Regions from separate parts of the Homo sapiens genome. Here all the other regions are linked to region 1. Evidence: fine-mapped expression QTL. A gene starts in region 1. Each other region holds a variant in brackets. All regions are shown on one strand. Distances are between the middles of the regions.

Region 1 (5,132 bases):
CGTCTAGCTCTGTCGCCCAGGCTGGAGTGCAATGGCGCAATCTCCACTCACTGCAACCTCGACCTCCGAGGCTCAAGCGATTCTCATACCTCGGCCTCCTGAGTAGCTGAACAGGCGTCCACCACCACGCTCGGCTAATTTTTGTATTTTTCTTTTGTAGAGACGGTGTTTTGCCATGTTGGCCAGGCTGGTCTCGAACTGCTGGGCTCAAGCAATCAGCCCGCTTCGGCCTCCCAAAGTGCTGGGATTACTGGCGTGAGCCACCGCGCCCGGCCTGTTTCGAGTTTTTAACCACATTCAAGAAGAGAGAGGTTTACAGAAGTCACTTGCCTTAGATTCCATATTCAGACCAATGGCTCTTTCAAAATTACCTTCTTAGTTTTAGCCAAATATGAAATACATGGAGATCCAAGGAGGTGAAGTGGCCATTGGAACACGTACCTCAGTGGAAAAAGAAAACCTGGTAAAGGTACGGTTTTACCAAGCATGAAAACAGTTGTGCTGATATTCAATCTTCTGTTTTATTCCCACTTTTTGCCTCCCACGTTAGATTCTGTTCAGATAGCCCGTGAAGGGTGACAGGGTATGCCATCCCAAAAATATGTCTCTGGCATAAGGATTATTTTAAGCTAAAAGCACTTGAAAAACAGAAGAGTGCTCTAAACTGCCCCCTTTTCTTCATGAAACAAGAGAAAACTCCTGTAAAACATGGCCTCCCTACACCAGGAACAAAGAAACACTCGGCACCAGAGCCGAGCAAGGCGGAGATTTCTACCTAGACGTGGTTCAAGCAGTTCCATCTTCCATTAGCCTCCCCGCACACTTTACTCTCCCACAGCTGCCGCTCTTGGTTCTGCCTAGCACAAAAGTATTTGGGTTTTGCCATTTCTTTGTGTCTTTTTCACGTAAAACATATTCAAGAGATGTATGTTTTTCTGTTGTTAATCTGTTTTATGTCAATGTAACGCTCTGACCCACCTCGCGACACTAAGAAAGTCAAGTTTGGCCTCCCCTTACACCCGCTTCCCATTTCTGGGCACACAGACAGTACGGACAATGCTTCTTTGTCGGCGAGAGCCCAGGGACCAGATATGGCCAAGGAAATCCAGCCTCCAGGCCACTTCTGAGGAGCAGGTAGCCGGCGGAGCGCTCCGCCGCGCAGGGGCGGGAGGTGTCCGCGGGCCTCACGAGTGCACAAGCCCGCATTGCGAAGCGCCGCTCGGGCCAAGAAGGAAAGCGCACTGTCCGCGTATTTCAAAGGCGCGTTGGGGCCAGGAGGGCCGAACTGCTGGAACGTGGTTCATGCAGCTGAAGCCCACGGACCCTAAGCGCGGCTCATCGGGAAGGCCCGGAGACAGGTGCTAGGCGCTATCATCCCGCGCCCTCCCAAGCCCGGCGCGCGCCTGTGACGTCACGCCTGGCGGAAGGTGGACGCTACCACCGCCGCGCTCCCCCTCCGGCGCCTCTGCGGCCAGGCCGCCGACTCACCTTCCCGTCCTGATGAAAAGGGAGGCCGGGCTCATCCGTGGTCGCCGGGGGACGAACACAGCCTGTCTCTTCGGCCGCTCCGGAGGCGAGCAGCGCCCCGGCGGCGGCCTCGTAGTCCGGGAAGGGGTTGACGAACGCCCGTTCCTCCATTTCTGCCTCCCCTCCCAGGTGGAGCTTCAGCCTCTTTGACATGGTCTCGCCCATCTCCGCCGCGGTACGGCGCGCGGGCGGGGACAAACCTCCTGTCCCGGCGCTGCAGCTCGCCCCGCCGCCGCCTCCTCCGAGGGCCCGCGCAGAGAGCGTCCTCTAGGAGGAGCGAGGCCGCGCGCTGGCGGGAGGAGCGGGGCGTCTGAGCGTGCACTGCCTCGTCGCGGGCTGCTCGCACATCAGGCGGCCGCAGAGGCGGTGGGCGCTGTGCCTCTGCCCTGTTCCTGGCGCCTTTGCCCTGCTCCCGACGGAGAGGAGCGGGCTCGCGGGAGCGCCCAGCGGCTCACAGCCTGCTCGCGCCTCCTCGCACCTTCCCCGTGGCCCGCAGAGCCCGTCCGCGGCGACGCGCACGGCCGGGGCTGGAGTCCCGGGGTGGGGATCGCTGCGCCCGGCCAGCCCCCTCCGCGATTTCCAAAGAAAACCGAACGCCCGCTAGGGCCACGCTCCCGCGGGGAAAACCTGTAGAGAAGAGGTCGCTGTCACTCAAGGTGTGTGCGCGTCGCCGACCGGGGCGAGCTCAGCCCCTGGCGCGCCGTCGTCAGCCTGCATTTCACCGGCCCCTGCTGCGCCAGCCCAAAGGAATAGCAGCAGTTCTTTGTTTGATATTAAGAAGAAAAAAAAAATCTCTTCTAAAGAACAGAATTTCAAAACAGTCTAAAACACTGCAAGGCTAGTCTCCGAGGGATGGGGGAGGGAGACAGTCCCTCCTATTCATCACTGTTGGAGGGGGGTGTCTGGGAGGAGGAGCCACAGGCCTTTTTTTTTTTCTTTTTATGTTTTATGTTCACTCCCTTTGTTTTGAATAAATGGACATCTTTGATACCGGGACATAAAATGAAAGCATACTTAATTATCCAAACATTTTATCGACCAGAAAGAGTCCTCCAGTGTTAATTGGCAAAGATCATAGTATGTATTATAAAAAGGACACAAGCAACCAGATCTTTACATTTATGTAATCGTGATGTGGTTTACTTCAGTCTTCATTGGTTCTCTTTATTTTTATTTGTTTGGACCAAATACGTGTAATGATTTCTGCTCCTTGAGGAAAATGTCTTATTTCCGTTTTCTTCCGCTCAGTAAACGTTGATTGAGCACCAAATGGTACTAGGTGATGAAGAAATAAGAGATTAAAAAGATAGTTTTGGCTCTCTGGGGATTCCCAGTTATTGGGTGAGAAAAGCAAGGATTACAGCATAGCTGATGTAGGTGCTTTTCTGGAAGCAAGCAAAAATACACGTTAATGTAAAAAGTGACATGATGAAGAAAAACACAGTGCCGAGCACAGGGAAGGCTCGGTTCCTCCTGCCTCCGTGGCCTCGGTGGAATGATGTGGGAAAGTCTGGCTTCCCACTACCTCTTCTAGTGTCCCCCCAACCCCACAGGGCTGGACATGTGAAACACACCCCACCAAGAACATGACCATGGGAAGGTACAGTGTAGAAGAAAATCATTTTAAAGGGGGTACTCAGCATAACTATCTTCAAAGTTCAGGGAAACAGAACAGATACAACAGGATGAGTGTTATAGCAGCATCCCTTAGCTCCACTTTCCTGCTTTCCCCTTTCCTGGGGTCTTTTCTCCCACCAAATTTTCATACCTAGACGGTGTAGGAAAATCCACTCCAGGAACTACTGATGCCGACATGCTCTAGGAGCCATCCTTATCCCACCACAGGGACTTAACTAGACAAAATAACCCACGGTGATATTCCCCAAAGTCTGGGGAACTATCACGCCTTGGACAGGTACAGCAGAAACGTCCACTGCGGGCTTTGTTAGGCTAAGCCTAGTGAATTCTCAGCTCTCCCTACCCAGGAGGGAGGTGAAGATTGTCTCTTCTTCCTGCAGTCTGCTGGTGGATAACTGGCAACTGTTGGCAAGTACAGAAACCTGTCCTAAAGAAAACCAATATTTTCAAAAGCTGAAAAATCGAAACCCAATTTAAGGAGTCGGCATATTTTCCTAAATGCTCTCTTATCGGCAGATCCCCTGCCCTCCTGGACAGCTCACTGACACTATTTTATGGAGAAGTGGTAGGTTCCCTTTCTTCAGCCTCCTGTCCCCTGGGGGTTTTTTAATGCAGAGCACAGGGGATTCCCTTCTGCGGCCCTTTTACACCCAGGGCTATCTTCCCCCGTGGCCACTCTTGAGCTCTTGAGTAGTACAGAGACCTTGGTCAGTGCCTTGAAATTACAACTTTATTTTCCTTAGGACAAGCCAAATTCTTAGGACACCCTCCCCACTCTTCTGTGTAAGAGAAGGGCAAGAGGACATACATGCCGGCCCAAAGCACACCCAAGGAGTCGTGAGGGCCCCTGGCAACTGACCTTTCAAAGGAAGACATAGTCCAAGGACACGATGTGCGAGAGGGCGGCATTGTGGCACCACGTTGAGATCTGGGGGGGCACTGGGCGGAGCAGCACCTGGGGAAGCCGCCGGGTGCGGTGCTTGGGTCACGGCCCTCCGGGGAGGCCACCGGGTGCGGTGCGGGGCAGGGCCCTACGGGGTGGCCGGCGGGTGCAGAAGTTGCTACCAGGGGAGGGTGTGCTCATCCTTGAAGATCTGAGTCAAAATAGGCAGTGTCATCCTCTTCCATTCCCCAGCACCTAACGTGGCTGCCCCAAAAGCCGCTGAGCTTGAGCTCCCTTCTAAAGCCAAAGCAGGCAGCAAGGCGGAGAGGAACCCCGGAGGTGGGAGGTCACTGGGGGGCGGGGAGGGTGGTTTCGGGGCACAGGGCAGCGGTGACTGCCCGCAGGGGCAAGCCCGGGCTCCCCGCCTGCGGCGGCTCCCCACCAAGTGGGGCCTGAGACAGGAGGAGCTGAGGTGGGGGCGCCTCCCTGAGAAACGCCACTTCTTATCTGGAGCGCCCCAAAGGTGAGAGGAAGACGATGGAAAACCTGGGGCACGAGGGCTCTCACTGTGGGGTTCAGCCATCGCCGAGCCCTGAGGCCCCGCAGACAGCCCCGGCTCTCCTCTTTACCCCAGAGTCAGGTACCAGCCTCTGGCCCGGGAACCAAGCCTCAGGTGCTTGCAGGGCTAGAATGTGTGGTTCTGAGAACTGCGTGGTGCTGGGTCAGAACCACGTGGGGCCTGTATTATGTATTTCAAAACTTCACGCTTCCCTGCAGCCTCAACACGGAAAACAGGCAGTGAGCCCCCCTCTCCCCCACCCCGCCCAGGTGACCAGATGCCCCAGTGTGGTGAGCTGGCCCTGCCACAGTTCCCCTTCCTGCCCTCCCGGACTGTGACCTAGTGACAGAGATTCTTTGTTCTACCAAACTAGTCAGGTTCCTGAATCTCCTCCAAGGCCCATCTGCACACTTCCTTATAAAATCCAGTTTTAGCAAACAGCCTTGCTAAGTCACTTTAGGAAGAACCACCCCCTAATATGTGATCACCCCCATTATTTGACCAGGTTCCCTATCCCTCACTATC
Region 2 (5,148 bases), 110 kb before region 1:
AGGACCCTGCAGTGCTGGTTCTTTCCTCCGCCCTCTTTCCAGGCCCCACCTCTGTTCTTCCAGGGCTCCAGCCAGGAGCCTTGAGGCCAGTTGGCCTTTTCTCTCGACACCACCCTGGCTGCTACCACCCTTTATTCAGACTCTGATGAGAGCCTCCCTGGTGGTTCTCTTGCTGCCTCTTGCTTCCAGCAAGGCAGCCAGAGTCACAGCAGGAGCCAGGGCTTGTGCTCCCAACACTCTCATGGGCCCACTGTGCCACAGAAGCACTTTGAGAGGCCAAGGAGGCCCTCTCTTCTCTCAGCACCCCTCCTGGCTGCCCAGCGGGCTCTGGCCTCTCCTGTGGCCCCTCCTGGCTCACTCCCCTGCTGCCACTCACTGGCCTGTGACTTGTCCTGAGACCCTCCAGACAGCCATTCCTCTGCCTAAAAGTCTCTTTCTCCATGGACACGCCCAGGTACACGGCACGCTCCTCCAGTACCTGCTGCCTGCCCCTTCTGCCCAACAGTTCCATTTCCTTGAGGTCCTTCACCTCCTCATGAGGCCTGCAGACACAAGGAAGAATGGCACTGCCCTTCCCCCTCCCCTGTTGGCTTTTCATTTTTCAATTTTCCTGCTTTATTTTCATCTTTAGCACTTATCACCAACTAACCTATTTTTCTTACCTTGCTCATTGTCTCTCTAAACTGCAAGTAACGTGAGAACTGAGATTTTCAGTTTTTGTCATTGTTACATCCTCAGTGCCCAGAACAGTGCTGGCACTCAGTGAGAATTCAGTCTTTGTTGAACACACAAATGGACATAGGCATCAGTGAAAGGAATGCAACAGCATATGCAGTACATGTTCAGCCAATTTTTAGAGGTATTAATAGATTCATAGCTTTATTCTGTTAAAAGTTTATGAAAAAGCAAATGAACTGAGCTCTCCTCAAAAGAGGCTCAGAAATTAATAAAGTCACAGAAATATATAAAGAGTGGGTAAAATTAAGCCTGGGAAGTAGAGATGGGAGAAATTATAAATGAAATACAAATTAATTGTAAAAATCAGAAAAATATAATTATAAATCTAAGTTAGCAGTTGATAAAAAGCAATAGAGCAAATCACATTGCTTGTTCCCCTCCTGATAAATCTAATCAATAAAGGAGAAGAACACAAAAATAAAAGCATAAATTAAAACACTACAGATTCAAAGGAGTTGAAAATCACAAGGAAGTATTCATGAATTGGAAAATCTGGTAAGATGGCAAAGTGCGTAAGTACTTTATGATACCAAAGTGCGTAAAGACATTGAAAATTTCAATAACTCAAAAAGCAAGCAAGAGCTTGAAGACATTTTCAAAGAATTATCTCCCAGAATGTCTTTAAGTTCATATGGCTTTTTTGAAACTTTTAAGAAACAATTCATTTTAATGAATGTATCAATTACTGCAAATCATAGGAATGCTACGTATTCATGTTGTAAAGTTAGTATAACTTGGGAATAAACACCAAAATAAAATTATATCGAATCATATTTAGGAAACTGAATTAAGCAATGTGTCAAAATAGTAAACCATCATAACCAACCATGATCTTCTTAACAAAAGATCGTTTTATTTTAGGCACGCAATTAACATTGTAAGTTATATCAGAAAGCAATGATTGTCTCAGTAGGTGCTGAAGAGGCTGTCAGCACAATTTGATATATATTCCTTATCAAAACTCTCTCAAAACTAGCCATGTAAGGCCTTTTATTAATGTAATAAAGACCTCATGTAAATTCCTGGGTTCCAGGCTCAAGCCTTCCACTGTGTGCTCCATGTTACCAGCTATGCCTTTTGAACGGGAGATGTTGCATAAATAATTGTTGAGTATGCACTTTAGATTCTTTGCTAACATCACATTTGGTGAAACTATAAAATAATTCCCATGAAAATTGGATTGCTTAATATCATAACTGATATTTAATAATATTTAATATTGCTCTAAAATTTCTGGCTAAAATGAAAATATTCAACCATCAGGAAGGAGAAACAAAACTATTACTGTTTGTAAACAGTTTATCATCAGTACTTACCTAAAAATCCTGGAGAATGAGCTCAGAAATATTTCTAAGAGTTGAGACAGTTTAGCAAAATGAACAGATACAACCTCAAACCAAACCAAACTAGAAAGCTCAGAGGACACAGAAATGCCAGTACTGAGCTGGCAACACCTCTGTTGTTTGTGAAAATGTTCTCTGGAACACATGGACACAGGAAGGGGAACATCACATTCTGGGGACTGTTGTGGGGTGGGGGGATGGGGGAGGGATAGCGTTAGGAGATATACCTAACGCTAAATGACGAGTTAATGGGTGCAGCACACCAGCATGGCACACGTATACATATGTAACTAACCTGCACATTGTGCACATGTACCCTAAAACTTAAAGTATAATAATAAAAAAAAAAAAAAGAAAATGTTCTCTGGAAGAGGTAGTTCAAGGCTTTTGGCTACAAGTAACACATACCTCAATTCAGCCAGCTTCAAAAATAAGAAAGAATTGTCTCTTACGATAGAAAGTCACATAGAGGAAGGGCCATGGTTTAACTGCATGGCTCAGCAGCATCCTCGGGCCGGGCTCCTTCCATGGGCCCCTGCTGCCCCCCTCAGCTCTTCCCCCTCCAACTCTCCTTCCTGGCTGAGAGAGGTCCGCCTGGGTCCTCACAGATGCAACAGTGTCCACTGGAAGGAGAGTCCCTTGAGCACATTGTGTAATTTATTTGGACTTCCGCTTTTGAATCTGTAAAATTGAAATAGTGTGTATCTCATAGCATTCCTCGGTGGCTAGAATGACAGGCTGTATG[T/C]GAGATACATGAATCTGTGAGGAAAATGCACTTAGCATGTCATGGGACCCTGAGGTCCTGGTTCTATTCCATGCTTCCTGCACTGAGAGGTACTTGGTTGGAGGCAGGCAATCTGAATGCTCTCCCCAACATCCGGTCAGTTCTCATTTATCTTGGTCTTTCATTTTCCCTCACCCATTTTTTTGTTTCTCCCTTTCAGTTTGCAAACCATTCTCCTTGGGAGAGAATACCATTTAAGGTAGTTTCTTTTGCTATTTGTTTTATTTCTTAATCTTCTTTATTCTCTGTGCACATGCAAAGCCCCCTTTTTTGGCTAGAGTCATTGCTTCAAGCTGCAGCTCCCTTGGGCTTTTTTTTCCTGACTTCATTCTGTATTTGCTCCTGGTAATAATCTCATTTTGTAATTTTGCTCTTTAGTCACAGGGCTTCATTTGGGACACTCACATTTTTGTTCTCTTTGTGATTATTTGTGATTAAGGAGTTGAGGTTATGACTTTAAGGTGCTTTTGATTCCAGAGCCATGTGCCATATAATCATCTGTGGTTTGTGGGAATGTCTTTGCCGTGATCTCTCTGAAGTCTGTGGGCACATTCCAGACCGTGCTGGTCTTCTGTCCGCAGGCTTCATGCAGAGAATGAAGTGTCCTTGCTTTCTCTTTCCTAAATGAGTCTCTGCCTCTGTGAGAACTGGGTCCACCTTCTCTCGGTTGCTCTTCTTTGTGGGAGCCTGAATGGTAAGCATGGCCAGCGTCCTGTGAGGAGTTGTAGCCAAATGAGCAGAAGCTGAGCAGCTGTCTGGGTGGGTGCGGCCTCTGCATGCTGCTTCCGCGGCCGCGCTGCCTCCACCTGGCCGGGGTCCCTCAGCTACTCACATGAGGCTCCAGCATCCGGCCCTGCTGCCCTTTAACCTCAACTGTAGCCTCTCCAGCGTGGTCACCAATTTTTTAACCTAAGGGTTCATGTTCTTGACAAGTACACAGTTTATTCATTTTCTATCCGTTCTCTTTTATATTCCAAATACCTCTCCATCTCCATGTTCAAATATTTCAATCCCGTCCCACCAGTTCCTGGTAGGATCCATCACTGTGTCTATGAACACGAAGATACCGATTAGACTGGATGCAGGTGCTGGTGTTTCTGGTTCTGCAGCGTGAGTGGCCACATTGCAAACATAGCCTGGCTGCCTCTCTTCTACAAAGACCACACTCCCGCCCCTCCCTCACCTGCAGCAGGGGGTTGGGATCCTCCCCTCGACAGGAGCCACGGCCTTGGCACAGGCTTGCTGAGTGGGGCAGCCAGTCACTCCTGTCATATCAGAAACAGGTGTGTCTCAGGAAACCCATGCACACCCAGCACAATCTGGCAGCGCCAAAGTCCAGATCCAAGTCGCCACTCGTCCCCCCTTCAGTCACTCCTCCCGTGTATTTATGGAACGTCTGCCACATGCAAGGTGCCGTTCTGGGCTCTCAGGGAACCAGGGTGAGTGATGCTCTGTCCTCGTGTTCAGAAGGCTCAGAAAATCATACCATACTAGGCAACTGCTGCATACTCATGGACGTGCCTTGTTCTGGGTACCAGAGGACAGGGGTGCCTGCTCAGCTGGGAAGGCAGTGACAGGCAGCAAGAGGGGGCTGCCTGGTGATTCTGAGCTGAGACTGAAAGATACATGGCAATTAGCCAGACCAGAGGCTAGGAGGTGCCTGGCATGAGGTGGTCACAGGCATTCCAGGAGACACGGTTTGCATGGTGAAAGCCTGGGATATGTTATCTAGTGAGGGCCCAGAGAGGGCAGACCGGATCCAGGCAGTGTGGTTACTGCTGGAGATGGAGAATAGGGCAGGCGGTGAGACACAAGGCTCTGAAGTGGGCAGGAGCCCATCATAGCAGGCCCTGTCCCTCTGGAGAGCCCACCGTCCCATGAGTGATTGGTGGGGAGGAATGTAGGGCCAAGCCTGCCACAGCTTGGGTGGCAGGAACGAGCTCTGCCCCTGGTGCCCTGTGTTGAGGCTCCTGCCCATGGCTGGAGGAGCAGCTGGGCCAGAGGGGACAGAGCAGGGAAGCCAGGGCATGGCTGGAGAGGAGGAGAGGTGAGACCAGAGACCCACGTGCCCTGAGTTTGGAGGGGCTGACTAAAATGGTGTGGGGATCCTGGTGTAACTGGAACGCTGTCAGGAGTCAGGCCCCTGGGCCCCTGGCCTCTGTCCCTCCTGGGCCACATACTCTGTCAGCTGCCTCTCCTTCTCCCTGCATTTCCACCCCTCCCTCTGCGGCCTGCCGGACTCTTTTGCATCCCCAGGAAAGATTGGCCCAGCCCCCCCGCCCA
Region 3 (5,148 bases), 51 kb before region 1:
GACCAGCATAATCCTGATACCTGATTCCTAATAAAAACAAAGATTTTATAGAAAAAGAAAATATGTACTAAGAAACATAAAAATCTTTAACAAAATATTAGCAGACCAAATGTAGCAATATTAATAAAAAGAAAAGGATAAAAATCATGCCCAAGTGAGGTTTATACTAGGAATGCAAGGTTGACTCAACTTTTAAAAACCAATCAATGTAAAATCACCATATTAATAAAACAAAAGAGGAAAACCATAGGAGCGTTTGAATAAATCCAGGAAAAAAAAATGACAAAATTCAACATCCCTTCATGATAACCAGTAATAAAAGGAAACTTCTTCAATCTGATAAAAGCCATCTAAGAAAAACAGTTAAAAGTATATTTGATGGGGAAATATTTAATATTTTTTTCTATGATTGTGAATAAAGCAAAGATGTCCACTCTGACCACTTCTATTCAATATTATACTATAGCTCCTAACCAATGTAATAAAAGAGGTAAAGGAAATAAAAGGCACAGAGGTTGGAAAGGAAGAAGAAAACTCACAGATACAATATGTGTACACAGAAAATCCTAAGTAATGTATAAAAAGCTACCAGAACTGATACGTGAATTTAGCACAGAATATAAAGTCAATATACAAAAAGCAGCTGTGGCCAGTTACAGTGGCTCAAGCCTGTAATCCCAGCACTTTGGGAGGCCGAGGTGGGTAGAACCCTTGAACTTGGGAGTTTGAGACCAGCCTGGTCAATATGGCGAAACCCCATCTCTACAAAAAAATACAAAAATTAGCCAGGCATGGTGGTGCACACCTGTAATCCCAGCTACTCAGCTAAGTCAGGAGGATATCTTGAGCCTGGGGAGGTAGAGGCTGCAGTGAGCCGTGATCACACCACTGCACTTCAGCCTGGGTAACAGAGTGAGACTCTATGTCTCCAAAAAAAAAAACGCAATTGTATTTCTATATACTGGCAATACATAATTGGAAAATGTAAATAAATAACATATCTAGGAATAAATTTAACAGAAGATGTGTTAAGACCTGTAGAGCAAAAACTATAAAGCACTATTGACAGAAATTAAAGAAAATATAAATGGAGAGATATACCACATTTGCGAGCAGAAGGACTCAACATTATTAAGATGTCAGTTCTGGCCAGGCACAGTGGCTCATGCCTGTAATCCTAGCACTTTGGGAGGCCAAGGCGGGCAGATCACTTGAGCTCAGGAGTTTGAGACCAGCCTGGCGAACATGGTGAAACCCCCGTCTCTACTAAAAATACAAAAACTAGCCGGGTATGGTGGTGGGCACCTGTAATCCCAGCTACTCAGGAGGCTGAGGCAGGAGAATTGCTTGAACCTGGGAGGCGGAGGTTGCAGTGAGCCAAGATCACACCTACTCCAGCCTGGGCGACCAAGCAAGACTCCATCTCAAAAAAAAAGATGTCAGTTAGTTCTACCCAAGTGGATCTAGAGATTCAATGATTCAATGCACTCTGACTCATAACTCCAATAGGCTCCATTTTTAGAAGCTGACAAATGGACTCTAAAACTTATATGAAAATACAAAGGACTTGGAATATTCAAAGTGATTCTGAAAAAGAACAAAGTGAGGTCTTAAGTTACCTGATCTCAAAACTTACAATAAATGCAGAATAAGAAAAACAACGTGGTAATATCATGTAGGTAAACAGGCCAAAGTAACTGAATAGAGTCCAGAAACAGACCCAGGCTTATTAGGTCATTTGATTTTTGATAGAGGAACCAAAATCAATCAAATGGGAAAAATAAATGTCTTTTCCACAAAAGGTATGGGAACAATCAGATATCCCTATGGTTAAAAAAAAACACCTCAGGCTGGGCACGGTGGCTCACGCCTGTAATCCCAGCACTTTGGGAGGCCGAGGCGGGCAGATCATGAGGTTAGGAGATAGAGACCATCCCGGCTAACACGGTGAAACCCCATCTCTACTAAAAATACAAAAAATTAGCCAGGCGTGGTGACGGGCGCCTGTAGTCCCAGCTACTCGGGAGGCTGAAGCAGGACAATGGTGTGAACCTGGGAGGCGGAGCTTGTAGTGAGCAGAGATCGTGCCACTGCACTCCAGCCTGGGCGACAGAGTGAGACTCTGTCTCCAAAAAAAAAAAAAAAAAAAAAAAAAAACCACCTCGTTTGTTACCTCATGTAATATACAAAACTTAATTTGAGATAAATCACAGGCCTAAAGGTAAAATCTAAAACAATAAAGATTAAAGGAGAGTATTATCTATATAACCTGAGGGTAGATAAGGTTTCTTAGACAAAACACAGACAGTAATTATCATAAAAAGAAAACATTGAAAAATAGATTTTATCAAAATTTAAAACTCTATTAGTCAAAAGATACCATAAAGAATATGATTAGGCAAACTACAGACAGGGAGAAATTATTTGTACGATATATATCTGACAGAGGGACTTTAACCAGAACATATAAAGAATTCTTTCAAAAATAGCAAAAAGACAAAAATAAAATAAAATAAAACAATGTAGGTAAAACACACGAAGAGACAGGCTGGGCACAGTGGCTCACACCTATAATTCCAGCACTTTGGGAGACCAAGACAGGAAGATTGCTTGAGTCCACGAGTTCGAAACCAGCCTGGGCAAAAAACAAGACCCCTACAAAAATAAAAAGATTTAGCCAGGTGTGGTGGCACGTGCCTGTAGTCCCCAGCTACTTGGAAGGTTGAAGTGGGAGGATCACCTGAGCCCTGAAGGTCGAGGCTACAGTGAGCCAAGATCCACCACTGCACTCCAGCCTGGGTGACAGTGCAAGACCCTGTCTCAAAAAATAATAATAA[T/G]AAGAAGAAGATATGAAGAGACAGTCAACAAAGGAAGATACACAATTGGCCCATGAGCACATGCAACATTAATCAACCCTGGTCAATCAGGAAGATACAAATAAAACCACAATGAAATACCCACCAAAATAATTAAAATTAAAAAGACTTTCAACATCAAGTGTTGGCAGATGCAGAACAACCAGAACTTGTGGAAAAAGTGGCAATTTCTAAAACTAAACATACACCTACCCTCCGATCCAGTAATTCTACTCCTAGATATTAACCCAAAAGAAATGAAGACATGTGTCTCTAGACAGACCTGTGCAAGAATGTTCATAGCAGCTTGTTCCTAATAGCCAAAACCTGGAAACCGATGAAAAACAATGATAAACTGGCCGGACACAGTGGCTCATGCCCGTAATCCCAGCAGTTTTGGAGGCCAAGGCAGGCAGATCACCTAAGGTCAGGAGTTCAAGACTAGCCTGGGCAACATGGTGAAACCCCGTCTCTACTAAAAATACAAAAAATTAGCCAGGCATGGTGACGTGTGCCTGTAATCCCAGCTACTTGGGAGGCTAACACACAAGAACCACCTGAACCCAGGAGGCAAAGGTTGTAGTGAGCCAAAACTGCGCCACTGCACACTCCAGCCTGGGAGACAGAGCGACACTGTGTCTCAAAAAAAAGAAAGAAAAACAATGATAAACTATGGTACATTTATTTAAGTGATGCTTAAAATTAAGAAGGTATCAGAATCTTGAGTAAGGAGGAAAAAAAGTATAGCTTAAAAAAACTTTTCAAGTAATTCTGATACCCCTAGAAAAACATTCCATGTTTCAAATAATCAACTTGCAAACAAGCTTCGGGAACAGAATTTGTATGAAAGCATTTTCTGACATATATACAATAGTTGGCCACCAGGGGGCACTCCCAATGCAGTTCTCTCTGGGGCTTCCCAGGGCAGGCGTGTGGGCACAAGCAGTGATGCTGTGGCTGCTGCCAGATTCAGTTCAGCATCTAAGGACTGCACTCGTGTCACCCTGGTGGGGGTATTATATGCTTTTTTTGGACATTGCATTTACCTTTCCAAATACAATCTCATTTAACAAATGTATTTGTTTACAGTGGCTAAACCCACACAAATTCCTAATGCCCTAGAACTCAAAACGTGAATAGAAGGAAGAATTTGCCACCATTACCCATGATTTTTTGTCAGATGTAATTTGTTAGAAAATCATTCACAATTAATAAAATTCCTAATACAATGTAGAATATTGTTAAAACCTTGCCTTTTTCTTTTCTTTTCTTTTTTTTTTTTTTTTTTGAGGTAGGGTCTTGCTGTGTCACCCAGGCTGGAGTGCAGTGGCATGATCATAGCTCACTGCAACCTCCGCCTCCCAGGCTCAAACCATCCTTCCACCTCAGCCTCCTAGGTACCTGGGACTACAGGTGCGTGCCACCACACCCAGATAATTTTTGTATTTTTTTTTAGTAGAGACATGGTTTTGCCATGTTGCCCAGGCTGATCTCCAACTCCTGGGCTCAAGCAACCCTCCTGCCTTGGCCTCCCAAAGTGCTGGGATTACAGGTGTGAGCCACAGTGTCTGGCCAAACCTTTACATTTTAAGGCCATCTAAAATACCACATAACTTTAAATTAACAAGTAATACACGTTCCTACACAGAAGAGTATATACCCTACTAAATACTAACACATGATGAGCATCTACAGGGAGGGAAAATAAATTTTGTGAGTCTGGACTGAACTTACAGTTTTCTTTGTAAAGGATAATTAATAATATTTTTTCAAGTACTTGAACACTTTACACCTTCATAAGCATGCCTGAACAACTTAGGACTTCATATGCCAGGAGAAGAAAATGTTAGAGCTTGTTATTACATAAAACTTGAACATTTCCTACCTAATTTTAAGAGACAGCTTTAATAAATGGAGGCCCTCTCAACTTAACTGTAACTTGAGAGAAAACAGTGTAGAGCTGTACTTCCCTAGTTTTGCCTCCCCCACTGAACCCCCTGCCTTGGTCAAACACAAACCTCGCCCTCTGCTCAGAGACGCAAACAGATGTGCAGACTCCACGGCGCAGGGTCTGTTTCTCCGCTGGCAGAGAGCTTTAGTCTACACTTATTTTCTGTAGTTTATACTATGAAGAAGATGTATTTTTACCCCCAATTCTAAGACCATATTACATATGCTTTTTCCTTTTTAAATTTTTCATTGATATATAATAATTGTACATATTTATGGGTGCATGTGATATACATGCATACAATGTGTAATGATGTATTCAGGATGTCCATTACCTTGAACA
Region 4 (5,134 bases), 110 kb before region 1:
TGTGTTCTCCCCGAAAGTTCTCTCTGTCCTGTGTCTGTCCCTACCCCTGCCCATATGCGCAAGCGTTTCCATCCTTACAAAGGCACCTTCTCTTGCCCTGCGTGCCTTCCAGCTGCCACCCGTCCCCTCCTACAGTCTTCACCCACACCCTGGACTGTTTCTCCCTACTGCAGCAGGGACCTGTGTCTACCATGGTGTGAAACTGTAGAGAAAGAGCACGGGAACCCCAAGGCTACAGCCGTGCTTATTTCCATCTCTCTTCAGCTGGGGAGAGAACATCACTTCTTCCTGAAAATTCTCCCACCCCTTGCTGCCCTGGCTCCTGGTGCACCACCTCCTGCCGCATCTTCCCATTGCCTATGCATCCTTCTCATCAGCCTTAGACACTTCATGCTCCTCTCCTGGCCTCAGTGCTGCTCCTTCCTGCAGCCTTCTCCTGGACATGCCCATGTTTCCACCACCACCTTCCCACAGGAGGCTCCAGCTCCAGAGCTGCCTCCGCCCTCTCCAGTCCAGCAGGGACTTTTTCATCTGCCCCGCCCTTGTCCTGGTGCTGCTGTAGCAGTAGTGTGACCTTGGTAAGGCGCTAATTCTTGCAGAGCCCCTGTTCTCCTGTATTGCCCTGCCTGTTGGGGGGCCCTTATTGTGAGCAGAACCTAGGGCCTTTTCTTCTCAGCCCTTGTCTCCCACGCTGTGCGCTCCCCATCGAGTCAATCCCAGGCCAGTCATTGCCGACAGCCCTCAGTGCCTCATTCTCTCTTCTCCATTTTTTCTCTAATATTCAGAAGCCTTCATAATGTCTTGCTTAGACTGTTGCAATGCCCTCTTTTTAAAAATCCTTGGTTTTTTAATTGTATAACATATAGCAGGATCCAGATCTAAATAAAACATAATCTCTGCCCTTGCGAAACTCATGGTAATGGCAGTAAGTCGACTTCTAAATAGAACACACCCAAGGCAGCGGGTGAGATGCATCAGAGCAGCGCAGGTGGCATCTGTGGGACCACACGGCATCTCACTCAGGTGGTGTCTGTGGGACGGCACAGATGCAGGGCGAGGCAGCCTCTCACACAGGGTGGCATCTGTGCTGAGTGCCCTCCTGGCAGTTGAGAGCGCTCAGTGAGAGACAGTGCAGGCCTGGCCTGTGCTTCTGTTCTACATGCTCTCCTTCCGCACATGCGCAGATTCCCATGGTCTGACTTATGTGGGCTTTGGGACATCTTGTGTACCTTGATGGGCATGTTTCTAGAGTCAGAACTATATCACACTGTGTCAGGGGGAGAATTGCAAAAAAAGAAAAAAAACCCTACACAATATTCACACAGGGGCAGCTTCTTTGACACTTGAGTGTCTCCCTGAGCTAAAGGAAGCCTCACTTCAAAAACACCTGAGTCCTGTCACAAAATCAGCTATACCCAGGGAACACCCAGCACTTTCACGGTTTTGTCTGATTCTTTATTTACATATGCATAATTCTATAGTGTTAATCTGCATGATCACAGTAAGCACACTGAAAACAGCACCTCAGAGTGAGGGCTAGATTTGGGGTCGGGTGTCCAGCCTGTACCCTCCTGTCACCTTCTGTGGTGCCCCCGTGCCCTGCTCCTCAGCTTGTCACTAGGGAGTCAGCCTGCGGCTCCGCTCCTGACCCATGGAGCGTCAATCAGCTGCAGCCTGGCTATGTGTGCCCAGGTGCACGGCCTCCCTGCCTGTGAGTAACTCCTGCCCTGAGGGCACACTAGCCCGGCAGGGAGAATGGAGACCTTACTTCAGAAATGGTCACCAGCCAATGGCGTGCCCAGAGGGGTTGTGGAGCTCCTGCGATAATGCCAGGCTGAGTCGCGAAGCCTGGGTGGTCTTTGCAGCTCTTCCGATAGTTCACCGCAGACAGCCTCACCTTACTGTGGCCCAGTTTCCTCCACCCTAATGTGTGAACTGGTAACGTGGAATGTAGTCCAGTAGAATCAAAGCCCCGAGAGGGCAGGGACCTGCCTATTGTGTTGCTTGTCACCACAGCCCAGGTGCCCCCTCACCGGGCATGTTGGGTCCTTCATACACTGTCGCTGAGTGAATGACGGGGCGTGGTCTGCTGGCCCTGCAGCCTGCACATACTTGCGGTGTGATGGGGCTTTCCCTTCTGTGCTCACCTATGTTTGTCTGTCTTTCAGGAGCCCAGCAGCCGGGGCCGCCCTATTACAC[C/T]GACCCAGGAGGACCGGGGATGAACCCTGTCGGGAATTCCATGGCAATGGCTTTCCAGGTCCCACCCAACTCACCCCAGGGGAGTGTGGCCTGCCCGCCCCCTCCAGCCTACTGCAACACGCCTCCGCCCCCGTACGAACAGGTAGTGAAGGCCAAGTAGTGGGGTGCCCACGTGCAAGAGGAGAGACAGGAGAGGGCCTTTCCCTGGCCTTTCTGTCTTCGTTGATGTTCACTTCCAGGAACGGTCTCGTGGGCTGCTAAGGGCAGTTCCTCTGATATCCTCACAGCAAGCACAGCTCTCTTTCAGGCTTTCCATGGAGTACAATATATGAACTCACACTTTGTCTCCTCTGTTGCTTCTGTTTCTGACGCAGTCTGTGCTCTCACATGGTAGTGTGGTGACAGTCCCCGAGGGCTGACGTCCTTACGGTGGCGTGACCAGATCTACAGGAGAGAGACTGAGAGGAAGAAGGCAGTGCTGGAGGTGCAGGTGGCATGTAGAGGGGCCAGGCCGAGCATCCCAGGCAAGCATCCTTCTGCCCGGGTATTAATAGGAAGCCCCATGCCGGGCGGCTCAGCCGATGAAGCAGCAGCCGACTGAGCTGAGCCCAGCAGGTCATCTGCTCCAGCCTGTCCTCTCGTCAGCCTTCCTCTTCCAGAAGCTGTTGGAGAGACATTCAGGAGAGAGCAAGCCCCTTGTCATGTTTCTGTCTCTGTTCATATCCTAAAGATAGACTTCTCCTGCACCGCCAGGGAAGGGTAGCACGTGCAGCTCTCACCGCAGGATGGGGCCTAGAATCAGGCTTGCCTTGGAGGCCTGACAGTGATCTGACATCCACTAAGCAAATTTATTTAAATTCATGGGAAATCACTTCCTGCCCCAAACTGAGACATTGCATTTTGTGAGCTCTTGGTCTGATTTGGAGAAAGGACTGTTACCCATTTTTTTGGTGTGTTTATGGAAGTGCATGTAGAGCGTCCTGCCCTTTGAAATCAGACTGGGTGTGTGTCTTCCCTGGACATCACTGCCTCTCCAGGGCATTCTCAGGCCCGGGGGTCTCCTTCCCTCAGGCAGCTCCAGTGGTGGGTTCTGAAGGGTGCTTTCAAAACGGGGCACATCTGGCTGGGAAGTCACATGGACTCTTCCAGGGAGAGAGACCAGCTGAGGCGTCTCTCTCTGAGGTTGTGTTGGGTCTAAGCGGGTGTGTGCTGGGCTCCAAGGAGGAGGAGCTTGCTGGGAAAAGACAGGAGAAGTACTGACTCAACTGCACTGACCATGTTGTCATAATTAGAATAAAGAAGAAGTGGTCGGAAATGCACATTCCTGGATAGGAATCACAGCTCACCCCAGGATCTCACAGGTAGTCTCCTGAGTAGTTGACGGCTAGCGGGGAGCTAGTTCCGCCGCATAGTTATAGTGTTGATGTGTGAACGCTGACCTGTCCTGTGTGCTAAGAGCTATGCAGCTTAGCTGAGGCGCCTAGATTACTAGATGTGCTGTATCACGGGGAATGAGGTGGGGGTGCTTATTTTTTAATGAACTAATCAGAGCCTCTTGAGAAATTGTTACTCATTGAACTGGAGCATCAAGACATCTCATGGAAGTGGATACGGAGTGATTTGGTGTCCATGCTTTTCACTCTGAGGACATTTAATCGGAGAACCTCCTGGGGAATTTTGTGGGAGACACTTGGGAACAAAACAGACACCCTGGGAATGCAGTTGCAAGCACAGATGCTGCCACCAGTGTCTCTGACCACCCTGGTGTGACTGCTGACTGCCAGCGTGGTACCTCCCATGCTGCAGGCCTCCATCTAAATGAGACAACAAAGCACAATGTTCACTGTTTACAACCAAGACAACTGCGTGGGTCCAAACACTCCTCTTCCTCCAGGTCATTTGTTTTGCATTTTTAATGTCTTTATTTTTTGTAATGAAAAAGCACACTAAGCTGCCCCTGGAATCGGGTGCAGCTGAATAGGCACCCAAAAGTCCGTGACTAAATTTCGTTTGTCTTTTTGATAGCAAATTATGTTAAGAGACAGTGATGGCTAGGGCTCAACAATTTTGTATTCCCATGTTTGTGTGAGACAGAGTTTGTTTTCCCTTGAACTTGGTTAGAATTGTGCTACTGTGAACGCTGATCCTGCATATGGAAGTCCCACTTCGGTGACATTTCCTGGCCATTCTTGTTTCCATTGTGTGGATGGTGGGTTGTGCCCACTTCCTGGAGTGAGACAGCTCCTGGTGTGTAGAATTCCCGGAGCGTCCGTGGTTCAGAGTAAACTTGAAGCAGATCTGTGCATGCTTTTCCTCTGCAACAATTGGCTCGTTTCTCTTTTTTGTTCTCTTTTGATAGGATCCTGTTTCCTATGTGTGCAAAATAAAAATAAATTTGGGCATGTGCTTTGATTGTTTTGTTGGGGGAGTGGGAAAGAGGGTGGAGATGAAGTTTCTAATGAGGAAGGGTGTACAGCAGATCCTTGGTTCAGTGGGGTGAGGTGGGTGGAGGATGCACCTGGTCTCAGGGGAACCAGAAACTAGATGTTATTTGAGAATGTAAGATACAAGCTATGGAGACAATTGTCCCCAGTGGGTAGGAAGACAGAAGCATCGCTGAAGTAATGTACTGTTGATACTGTAAGTTAACCTTGAGCTAGGGCTGTTTTTCACAGGTCGGGGAGCCTTCATCTTAAAACACAGCTCTGCTTGGTCAGAAATAACACTTCTCTCACAGATGCTGCTGAAGGGTGTAGCTGCTACAGTTAAACTGCATTTTAATTATTTATTTTTTATTTTATTTTGTGTTTTAGAGATGGGGTCTCACTGCGTTTCCCAGGCTGGTCTCAAACCATTGGCCTCAAGCAATTCTCCTACCCCAGCCTCTCAAGATGTATTTTAGATGTATCACTAATTGACATAATGTTTGCAAAGA

Direction of the effects. Alleles are on the strand shown, and positions count from the first base shown. SD is a standard deviation of normalised expression in the study named. Not every link is listed here.
For the expression in iPS cells of the gene that starts at base 2,381 in region 1, allele T in region 3 goes with a lower level than allele G (small effect, 0.34 SD a copy in HipSci).
With allele T in place of C in region 4, the expression in aorta of the gene that starts at base 2,381 in region 1 is higher (small effect, 0.22 SD a copy in GTEx).

What was found.
Region 2: its variant is fine-mapped to the expression of LANCL2 in lung (TOPMed, PIP above 0.99).
Region 3: its variant is fine-mapped to the expression of LANCL2 in iPS cells (HipSci, PIP 0.95).
Region 4: its variant is fine-mapped to the expression of LANCL2 in aorta (GTEx, PIP 0.94).

What each region holds. Positions count from the first base shown.
Region 1 is chr7:55,362,586-55,367,717 of GRCh38, reverse strand. LANCL2 (LanC like glutathione S-transferase 2) reads right to left here and starts at 2,381. Exons shown (of 9, transcript NM_018697.4): 1 at 1,489-2,381. The coding sequence starts at 1,692. RefSeq lists enhancers at 917-1,156, 1,187-1,646, 2,267-2,456 and a silencer at 1,777-2,196.
Region 2 is chr7:55,476,437-55,481,584 of GRCh38, reverse strand. All of the region lies in intron 4 of VOPP1 (VOPP1 WW domain binding protein), which reads left to right. Among named protein-coding and RNA genes, the nearest start is that of VOPP1, 93 kb to the left of the region's middle. RefSeq lists an enhancer at 3,127-3,677. The variant T/C (reference allele first, on the strand shown) is at 2,827.
Region 3 is chr7:55,413,979-55,419,126 of GRCh38, reverse strand. The region is part of intron 6 of LANCL2 (LanC like glutathione S-transferase 2); the gene reads right to left. Among named protein-coding and RNA genes, the nearest start is that of LANCL2, 51 kb to the right of the region's middle. The variant T/G (reference allele first, on the strand shown) is at 2,838.
Region 4 is chr7:55,470,080-55,475,213 of GRCh38, reverse strand. It overlaps VOPP1 (VOPP1 WW domain binding protein), which reads left to right. Exons shown (of 5, transcript NM_030796.5): 5 at 2,169-4,601. The coding sequence ends at 2,359. Among named protein-coding and RNA genes, the nearest start is that of VOPP1, 100 kb to the left of the region's middle. RefSeq lists an enhancer at 1,575-2,241. The variant C/T (reference allele first, on the strand shown) is at 2,200.